Linked DNA regions of Homo sapiens: region 2 is linked to region 1. The links come from fine-mapping of genetic effects on gene expression. A gene starts in region 1. The other region holds a variant in brackets. All regions are shown on one strand. Distances are from middle to middle. Region 1 holds the start of CLEC14A (C-type lectin domain containing 14A). Region 2 has its middle 150 kb from the start of CLEC14A.

Evidence for each region. PIP is the estimated chance that this variant, and not a neighbour inherited with it, causes the effect. A credible set is the group of variants that fine-mapping cannot tell apart.
Region 2: its variant is the best candidate, but not a certain one, in a credible set for the expression of CLEC14A in fibroblasts (GTEx, PIP 0.85).

What each region holds. Positions count from the first base shown.
Region 1 is chr14:38,253,626-38,259,010 of GRCh38, forward strand. CLEC14A (C-type lectin domain containing 14A) reads right to left here and starts at 2,468. Exons shown (of 1, transcript NM_175060.3): 1 at 375-2,468. The coding sequence starts at 2,397. The coding sequence ends at 925. LOC112268136 (a long non-coding RNA gene) reads left to right here and starts at 2,420. Exons shown (of 5, transcript NR_169588.1): 1 at 2,420-2,820. RefSeq lists an enhancer at 1,650-2,277.
Region 2 is chr14:38,402,140-38,407,524 of GRCh38, forward strand. No RefSeq gene overlaps it. Among named protein-coding and RNA genes, the nearest start is that of CLEC14A, 150 kb to the left of the region's middle. The variant G/A (reference allele first, on the strand shown) is at 2,251.

The DNA of each region.
Region 1 (5,385 bases):
CCAGAAGATTGCAAATCAATACTTAGCATTAACATTTTAATTGAGAATTAACATCACCATAATTGAAGATGAGGATGAGCATCTTGATGTTCAGGAGAGGGCTATTTGCTTGGGGAGGTCATTACGCTGGAAAGCACAAACACTGGAAAGGGAAAACGCAAATTATGTGTTTTCCTTGGGCATGGACATAAAGTAAACACTTGAACTGGTGGTCAACTGTAATTTTCTTCCAGAGCCAGCAATTCTGGCAACACTACACTTTCGATTTATAGCAAAGCACACAAGTAGCAGTGACTTTGAAAAGAAAGGATAAAAGAATCAATGAAAAAGTTACTAGTTCTTAAAGATCTGTGTCTCATTCGAGGAACTTAAGGACCTCTCCCTCAATCTAAAAGCAGAATGCACTCTTGCTGCTTACTCCCAGCATGCCCTCAGCTGTTCCTAATTACTCCTGGAGGAAGGCAATGATATTTGAGTCTGGGTTATCAACAATCCTTTAATTTTTTATTTTTATTTTTTTCCCTGGGATTTCGAACCAATATACTCCTAGCCTGAACAACATAGAACATTTCCTTTCCATTTTGGTAGAAATTATTTTTTAATGTAAATTATATTGTGTTCTATTTGTTTCCAATGTCTTGAAAAGTTCAATCACTTCTCCAAATTCTCCGAATAAACATAAGAAAATATCTCTCCCCAGCACTACCCGGTCCCCCAGTATCACCATCCTAAAGGCACTTCCACTTCCTCTATCATCAGGGAAGGAGTGTGCAGTTCTGATTTAGCTCCTCAGTGGAGTAAAGGGAATTTAGAGGAAGGGGGATTTCTGCAGAAATTGTCAGTTACACAAGTAAGTTCCTCTTGGTTCCCCGTTTCATCAAAAGTGAAAAACTGTTCACAGGAGTGCCCATGTCCCCTGTTTCCCTATGCATCACTAGAGCCAAGAGGGGACTCCGCCAGCAAGGCACCCTCTGCTCTGTCCCGCAGATCACAGTCCCCGACTTTCACCCCATTGTTTGTGCAATGTGCAGAACTGGAGCCCAAAGCAGCGGGCTCAGGATCACTCTCCAGGCCCGGCGGGCCCATAGACTCCTTCCTTGGCTGGGAAGAGGGGCTTTCGTGAAAGCAGAGCTTGACAAGCCCCAGTACTGTCATGGTCAAGATCACCAACACTACTACTGCTGTGCTCACAAATATGAAGACCACGGCAGAGGAGGAGTCGAAAGCCTGAGGAGTGGCAGAGGAAGTCGTAGAATTAAACTTGGAAATCACGCTCCCTGATGGGGTGATAGTGGCCTTTGACTCGGCTTGAAGGGACATTTGAAGGGTAGACATCGTGCTCTGTGATCCCCATCGAGGAATCTCAGGAATAGATGTTACTGAATTGTCTTGTTCAGGGACAAGTGGTGTCTCTCCCAGCTTCTCGTCGACCCTGATTGGCCATGTTCTCTGCGGCACGGGGCTGGTTGCAGTGGCCGGCGGGCGCCTGGTGGGCACCCCGGTCCCCCCAAGGGTCGGCTGTCCTTCCCCACTGGTCACACAAGAGCGGCCGTCCTTCCCCAGCTCGAAGCCCGTAGCACATTCGCAGGCAAAGCCTCCCAAGTCGTCTAGGCAGTTAGGGAGCTCTGCGCATTTGCCAGCACGGAGGTACCTCCCGGGGCAGGGACACAACACATCGCCCGAGAGTTTGTCCCAGCGAGCGCCGATTTCGTCCGCGATGCAAGTAACTGAGATCGGGAGCTGTCCCCGGCAGAGCGCACTCACCTCGGTCCCAGGTGGACTGAAGTCCAGAGCGGCGCTGTGCAGCTGGAAGGGCGCGCGATAGCTCAAGTTAGAGGCGGCCCCGGGGCGCGGCGCAGGACACAAGACCTCAAACTGGTACTTGCACAGGTAGCCGTTGGCGCGCAGGTGGCATCGCATCTCCTTCCAGCCTGCGGGCTCGACCCCACCGGTGGCCTGGAGTACCGCGCATCTCCGCGCGGTGCAGGAGCGTTGGGGCTCCTCCACCCACTGCAGCGTGTCGCTTTCGAGACCGCCGGGGTCGGAGGACAGCCAGGAGAAACCCCGCAAAGGCTCGTTCTCCAGGGTGCAGTGGGAACGCCTGCGCTCCAGTGCGACCCAGAACAGCAGGTCTTTGGAGCCCCCTCCGGGCCCTGGGCCTGCCCGCAGGAGCGCGAGCACAGCGCGCAGCTCGGCGCCCGCACGCACGGTGCTGAGCGCCCCACCTCGCAGGATGCAGGCCTCCTCGGCCGCCTGCCGCTTCATGGTAGCGTGGTGCAGGCTGTAGCAGGCCCCCGAGGCCGAGCAGCCAGCACGGTCGGCAGTGGGGTGTTCGCCGCCGCCCGGCCCGGGCCAGAGCGCCTGCCAGAGGAGGCACAGGGCGAACGCCGGCCTCATTCTCTGAGGCCCCGCACGCAGAGCTGCTCCCAACTTGGATCTGTCCCGCTCGAGGACGCAGAGCTGTGTCTGGAGCGCGGTCACCGCCCTCTACAGCTGGCTTCCCCAACCCGGTTCCCCCTCCCTTCCCCTCCGCCCTCGCTCCCGACGGACCCCCCAACTGCCAAGAATCCCCCCGCGGGCCCAGCGGCCAACAGTTTCCCTTAGGCCGCGACAGGAAATGTGTGCGGAGCGCTGCCAGGCCCGGTGCAGCCCTGAGTTATTCTGGGGTCAGGAACACAGCTGGCGCCGGGTACAGGGGACGCAGTCGACTAGAAGGTCAAACACCCTGCTTAGAGCAAGAGGAGAAATTCGCCACTGGGATGAAGTGTGTGGTTTTTCTCCGTTCAGGGAGTTTCATCAGGACCGCAGAACCCATAACACGTAAGCGAACATAGGCAGGAAGGACTTGAGAAAGGAACTGGCTTATGATTATAAGACCACGCCCGTCTATTGTGTTTCTGTCCGGAGCTGTGGAGTTAGCGTCAGAATAATTCGTAGACGGCTCCAGTGTTTGGGGGGCCTGTGCCTGTGGGGGAAAAATATGTTGTGAAACAACTTAGCAACTGCTTTTGCCACCAGAGGCAGCACTATTTAACCGCATATCTCTCTATGGGTCTTTGCTTCTCTATTATGTCAAGAGATTTCAGGAGTCCTAACTACTAAAGAATTTGGAGTTGTTTGGGTATTTTAAATGGGAAATTCTGCTTCTTCCATCAGCACTTGCTTTAGAAATTTATTTTTCACTTCCACGTGTTTCTCTTTGAGTTAGACCATATTGATTCATTACAGAAAGGAAATGTATTTCTAGGACTAAATGAAAAATAATGACCATAGATCTTAACAGTTAGGTTGTTAGCTTTCCTTGCCACTGTATTGGTTCAAAAATTCTTCAAGTTTATAGGTTATACATAAATGAGTTCGTGGCCTTATAAATATTCGAGAACAACTGCCCTATGTGTGATTTTAGCCTTGAACTATTTTAGTATCATTTTCTCCTATGATTGAGTGGCAGCATTTATAATAGTAAGTTGTAAACATCTCCTTTAAGGAAAATTAGAGTTCCTTAAGAAATTAAAATGTTTATTCCATTATAATGAATATTGTATACTGTCAAAAAATATCTTGTAATTTGAAAGATGGGTGAGCCAATTTCTTTAGAATTCCAGTGGGTGTTTTGTTTTAATATAAACATTTCAACTCAGTGGGAAGTGGCAAGGAATTAAAGATGAATAAAGAAGTAAAGGTTAAAAACTGTACTGTTATGAAAGGATTTCTTGTTAGCAACTTAGACAATTCAGTATCAGTTTAGAAAACGTACATTCTATCTTGGTTCATAATGGCCAAATACGTTGCCATCAGAAATACATAGAGAGTTTCAGCTAAGCCCTCTTAGAGATGTCTGATGCTTTTAAATATCTTTAATCAGAATGAAAGTTGCCATTCCATGGATAATGCATATAAGCTCACTTTGTTTTACTGCATTCAGGTTGATGAGGGGTGGGAGGGAAGGTTTCAGGATCACATCTGTATGCTTCCATCTTATTTTTACCATAACTCTCATTCTTCTTTCCTCCTGGAAATTCCATGTATCTTAACAAACAACAGTAAGCCTATGAGTCATCATCATACTTACCTTGCTTTTGCTGAGTATGGAGCTTTGCACTAGGATTTCTCTCCTGCCCTATTTCCCAATTTAAAGAACATTCCTTAGTCCTTCCTTCAGATGTCTGAGAATCACCTTAAACGTGGCTTTGCGTTTAAATTAGGTAACTTAGTGTCTTATAAGAAAGAAACATGAAAATCCAGAAATCAAATTGAATGGTTTTTAAAAAATACTTAGTCACTTGGGCCAGCTCTCTATAGACCATTGCAATCTTATGACTGTGTTTGTAAATGTGTCCATGTAGTGCAATATTTTTAATAAAATCTTTTTCAAACTTAAGTAGTCAATGGAAATTTCTTAGATAGCTTTAAAAATCGTTTGGGATGAGATGAGGTGTCTACAGTAAGAAAGAATGAATAGCTGGAAAGCTTAAGTAAATACATGATCTCACTCCCTGACATTCTGTCTAGGGGAGTGGGATTATAGCAGAGAACACATTGGCCATAACGACTATATGAGAGTACTGACCATGACCATGACCATATCATGGAATGACACAAGAGTTAGAAAAAATTAGCTCAAAGTAGGACGTAAATAGTTTTGTAATTAGTTTGAAATAGACAGTTTATCTGACCAAATTAGAAATGGAGGAAAGTTTCTATTTTTTAATAATATTTATTAAGATAATAATATAGAACCATTTTACCCCCACTGGATTCCAAATGCCTAAAAATCTTATAATACCAAATGTGAATCTATTGGCTCTTTTACATGTTACAGATTAGAGCAACCACTTTGGAAAAATTTGACACTTTTTTTCACTAAAATTGAATATTTGCAAACTCTAGCACTTCCATGATAAGGTATAAAACTAAGAGAAATTTTTGCACATGTACAACAGAAGATATGTAAAAAATGTTTATAGTGACACTATTCATATTAACAAAACGTTGAATCAATCAAAATATCCAAAAACAGTATAAAAATAAACTGTAGTATATTCACTAATTTAATATTATATAGGAGTAAAAATTAGTACAATATAGTGGCAAGTAACAATATGAATTTATTTTAGCAATACAATGTTAATGGACAGAAGTTCCAAAAACGATACAGAGTCTGACATTTTTATACAATTAAAAGAACAGTACTAGATATATGTTTGTGTATTCTTTAGAAAAATAGTTACAATAAAATGAGACAAAAGAAACAATAAACATAAGATTCTTAGTGATGCGCCTTTTGGGTGAGAGGAAAGAGAAGGATGGAATGTTAGGGGAACTAGCAGGCTTGATATGGGCTGTTGATAGAGTCCTAGCTTTTGTTTTGTGCAGTGGCTTTGT
Region 2 (5,385 bases), 150 kb after region 1:
TGTTAAAAGTCAGCCTATCTATACCCTTCCTTTCTCTCTCTCATACACATATTATCCTAGAGTGTCCAAATGATAGGAAAGTCCTTTCAGGTATTATTTGTTGCACTTACATGTGTCTTCTTTGAAGATTGTGTCTGCCCTGCAACTGGAATGGTCAGATGACTCATGAGGATTTCTCTGAGCCTGGGACATGCTTTTGTAGTCTACAAAGGTGGACCATGTGGCTTTTTATCTTCATTGGGAGATACAATAGAATGCATATATCTTAAACACGAGCACAGATGCTTTTTCAATGTTTTCAAATGTACTAAACAACTAGGAGATCTCAGAAGGTGTCAAGTAACCACTTGCTCTTTAATGAAAATGAATACTTAACACGATGGCAGTGTGAAAATGCCTTTATCACCTACTAAAAATCTCTTCATCTGCTTGATCTGTGAACTATACCTGAGAAGGATTTCTGTTATCATCTTCAGGAAGACAGTCTTATTTTCTGTGTCCTTGCCTGAATAAGTCGGTTATTGTCATAAAACACTGTTCCCACGACTTCAGTGGGATGGGGATATATCCCCCACCCCTCATTGAAGGAATCTCCAAGTCATGGGGCAAAGGGCAAGAATATGGGAAGGAATGAAGGATTGGAAACAAACATGCAATTATTTTACTGTTATTGTCTTCAATCCAAGTAGGGCTTAACACTAATTATTTCAGACATGAAATTCTATATTCTTACTTAAATATTTCCCAGAAAGGTACTTATAATATTTTCTTTATTTTGAGAAAAATCTTTAAGAAAGGGGTTAATTAAAGTTTATGTTTACAGGAAACACAGTAGTTAGCAGGAAATGTCGGTTAACCAAGTAATTAATGGCTACCTGTGGTATACAAGCCACTGGGTAGGATCTATAGGAAATGCCGAGTATAAGATAAGGTCTCCATCCATAGGAAACAGCCACCTGTTACAGGACATCCAGCAGGTGCGGATGAAATTTCACATGAGTATAGTAAGTCACCCCTAGCTGTAGCCAAAGCTGCAGAGCAGATGCCCAAATGTCACAGCGTGTACTTTTGTTAGACAAAAAGGCTCCCACCAAAAGGCTTTTGAATATTTTGTAAAGGATTTAGAGATCAGCTCTGAAAAATTAGTCCACTCCAGGAATGGAGAACTCTGATACTCTCATTTTACCTCACAATTGCCTTCACTGGGAATAAAGAGGACCCTCCTATAACCCTTAAACAGGTCCTAGACAGGTTAATAAACAATGCCCTCATGATCAGAGTTAAAATCATTTATAAACTTCTCTGTTGGACTAGCTTGAGATTTGGGATGGTGATTTCTATTTCTTGCCTTATGTGAGGTTTAGTTTCTAGAGTCTGACAAACATAGAATGTTGGGATTGCTGTTGTCTAACTAGCAGTGAAAAAAAAAAAACAAAATTCAACTATATATCTAAGTTTTTTAGAGAATGGCAGCAGCACTAAAATCTAGGATTTTTTAGACCAACTAGACTACACTGGAATACTATTGGAATCAAACAAATGTACTTTTCTAAGTAGCCGTAAATTATACCTAAATTAGAGCTTTAAATAGTACTTTTTTAAGGCCTAGAAATAATTAAAATTGTTAGGGATAGTTGCTACTCTCTTTTCTTTCCTTGAAGAGCTACATCTTTCGTGAGTCCCAATTTTGTTTATGAACAGAGACCTCACTGGAGAAAAGAAAACCTCAGCAAGTGGAGAAAACATATTAATCAGAAGTTACTTTAAGTTAATTTTTAAAGAGAGAATGAAACCTTTCAATTTGTTTTATTGTATTAAGGAAAGAAAAACACCCAAACATAATAGTCAATTCCCTAACCAATAATAAAACAAATTTATGGACCTGCATACAGTTCTAAGATAGACATTCAATACATACTTGATGAATTAATAAGAAAAACTTGACCATTAGTAGAGAAGAGGAAATGATATATAAGCAATGAGTAATGAAATAGATTAGTAAATCTGATATAACTTGATCTTATTCACTCAGGCCTGCATTCTTCATTTTTAGGGTATGTAGCAATTCCTCACAATGTTTTAGAAACCATTGTGTTAAAACTGGAAGGTTATTAGAGATTACAACTCATACACTTTAAGGGATGGAACGCTTGATTAATGTTCTTTTATGTGAATTTCAAAGTTCTTAGCTGTGTTACTGCAGACTATAAATGACTAATGTCTCTGGATTTTAGAACCCTAAGAAAGCTG[G/A]AAATAATTTCATCTAAACTTCTCCTTTTTTAGATGCAAAGTCAAAGCCTAGAAAGGCTTGAGTTTCACAAGTTACATTTCTAGCTGGTTACACACTAGGGCTTAGTGCAGTATTCTTCCTGCAGGAAAATATCAAAACCTATGTTTGACCACTGTTATATCTGCCTTCTCTTGCTCCATATGCTGTCTACAAAATTCATTCATGTTGACATGTGTGTCAGTGGTTTCTTTTAATTGCTCAGTAATATTCTATTGTATAAATACACCATGACCTATTCATCCATTTTCCTTCTGATATGAATTTGAATTATCACCAGCCTTTGGCTGTTGTGAATATAGCTTTTATGAACACTCATATTCAAATATTTCTATGGGAATATGTTGGTATTTTTCCTGGCCAAATATCTAGGGGTGGAATTTCTGGGTCAATTGCTGGATAAGTGTATCCTGATACTTAAAAGAATTTGCTAACAGTTCCCAAAATAGCAAAGCAATGACTATAAAGTTTTCAAAGAATGAGTGTAAACTGAGATTTACGTACCCAGCCACAAAATACAGATCATGTATAAAATCCGAAGACAAACTTTTAAAAACATGCAATGAATATACATTTCCTCAGTTCCTTAAAAAGTGGAAGAGAACAAGCTTTAGCTTTCCAAGGTAAAAGGCATGGGTGTGATCATTAAATCCATTTAACTTTAGGATTTGAAATAAAAATAGTAATTTTTTATTGTAGACCAGAATGTAAATGTCTTCATCCCCCACCATATAGAAATGATTATAATCATAATTTTTGGCAAAGAAGGGAGCGGTAAGGGCAGATTTTGTAAACAGGCTGATCTCTCGTAGCCAAGGGATCCAAAGACATTTAAAATGGAAAAGCAAGAAATAAAGCTGTGAAATGTAAAGATAAACACTAAAAAAGCATAATTAACTTAAATTTAGGTAGTAGAGGCGAAGGAGTGAGGAGGGTTAAAATGGACATGTCTTAAATTCACCTCTAGCTCATAATAGGGAGTCAGTATACGTACTTTAAAAAAGAGAGGATTCAGTTTATTGGACAAAGTTAATCATTAGGAAAAAATACACACTAAAATATTTTTGACATAACAAAAACAGAAGTCATAACATAAAATATGGTGATGGAACTAAAAGCAAACATTTCTGTCATGTCAATAAAGGTCTGAATTTTCCTATGAAAAGAAACAGACTCCTATTGAGCCACAAAGCCAATTCTAACTACACACTGTCGTCAAGAGAAACACACTTAGAACAAAACACCTATACCCAGAGAGAACCATACTCAGTAATGAGGTGCCAAATGAATTCAGTTTATTTCCCATACCTTCCCAATCTGAATGAAGTGAGGGAAGGGGCAAAGCTAGACTATAATTAGCTGGGTAGAGGAGACTTAATGAGCTGTACTCTGTAAGTAAATCTACTGATGCTTGTGTTCTATTTGTTTTCTGCTAAAGATCTTTTTGGAAATTTAGACCTCCCTTTTGCTGACAATAGGGCCAGCCTGTCTGTGTGCCAAGCCCTGTCTGCCCTGCATTCTCCCTCCCCAGGCCTCTGAGCTGCCTCTAGATTAAAGAGACACAGGATGCTTATGGCTGACTGAGAAAAATAAGACTAGTGGTGATCTGATACAACAACAGTCAATTTCCCCCTTCTCCAGAGCAGCAGCTGTGCTCCATTTGTCTTAGCCCTTTCCCAGGGGGCTGCCTGTGTTCTTGTTTATAAGAGGAGGGTTGGGCAGGGTGAGTGGAGTAGACTAGAAACAGAAGTGGTTCAACTTGGCCTTTCATGGAAGGGCATGATTAAAAGAACAGTTGCATGAATATGAATAAAATATATGGCGTTTAATTTGTCTGATTGCATCTTTCATTAAACACATGATAAGCTCCAGCAGAAAGTTCTACCTCCAGGGCAGTATTACTGATATGACTCTGCATTTATCTTAGTATTACTATGGGGAACACTTATGTTTTACAGCCTCATGGTGGTTAGATTTATTCTCAGCTACTGATATTAGAAGAGTGATGACACATTCAGTGGTATTCAAGGACACTGCAAGCAGGAAGGGGTGCTTTACTGCAAACACATTTTAGATATTTGGATTATCCTTGAAATGCAGAGCATAAGGCAATAAAATGCAAAACACTCATCCCTCCTCTGCGCTCATTTTAAATATTCCATGGCCAGGAAAAGAGCCGCACAAGATTCAGTGTGGAGTCTCTACTTTCCCAAGGTGAACATTTTTTCTAAGGAGACTTATGGGCTTTGAAAAGAATGAACCATCTGAAATAAAAAATGCCCTAGGGAAATAATGAAGAATGAATGTTAAAATAAAAATGGTCTCAGTTTCTTCCTCCTATTGCATAGAGATAGAATTCTATGAGACTTGGTGTCTGCACATTATAAATTATTACACAAAGACACATGCATATGCACATGCAGATTAGAATTATTTTTTTCAGATTCCTGGTCTGTCTCATCTCCTAACACAGACATATATGTGAAATCAAGTAACCATTTAATTTTTAAAATTCAAGAATTACCTATTACTTTTGTGGATGGCAATAATTAAATTTTCGCAGAATTCTTGCCATCCACTTTTCTGAGTTTCACTTTTATCTCCTTCCTGTTCTATTAACAGAGTATGCTTTAAAAATTTACATGTGTGGAATAACGTCAGGGAACAACAGAATGAAAATTTATGAATCTCTCCCAACCCTCTTGAGGGAGCTATGACTACCTTTCAGATAGACTACATTTCAGGACCAGATCTCAGGCAAACACTGAACTTCACTCTGCTGACAATTCGAAATCTTATTGTGGGTGACTTATGGCCCAGGATCTTATTATATTCAGAAGATGTCACAGGCAAGAGTGTCAGTCCTGCTACAGGCAGATTATCTGCCAGGTACCAATCCCTACAGAAGGCCAATCCCATGACCCTGAGGCCCATCGGAAGCAAGATTCATTGTAGGTGTTGAGTAATGGGCAAATTGGCACCCTTTCTTGATAGTGGCTAGGGCAGGCTCCTAAGCTATAGGACACTTGCCTTAATTCCACTGCCTGCTGGGGCCCAAGGAAGCCCACAGATCAAGAATGGTCTCTTTCCTATTTACT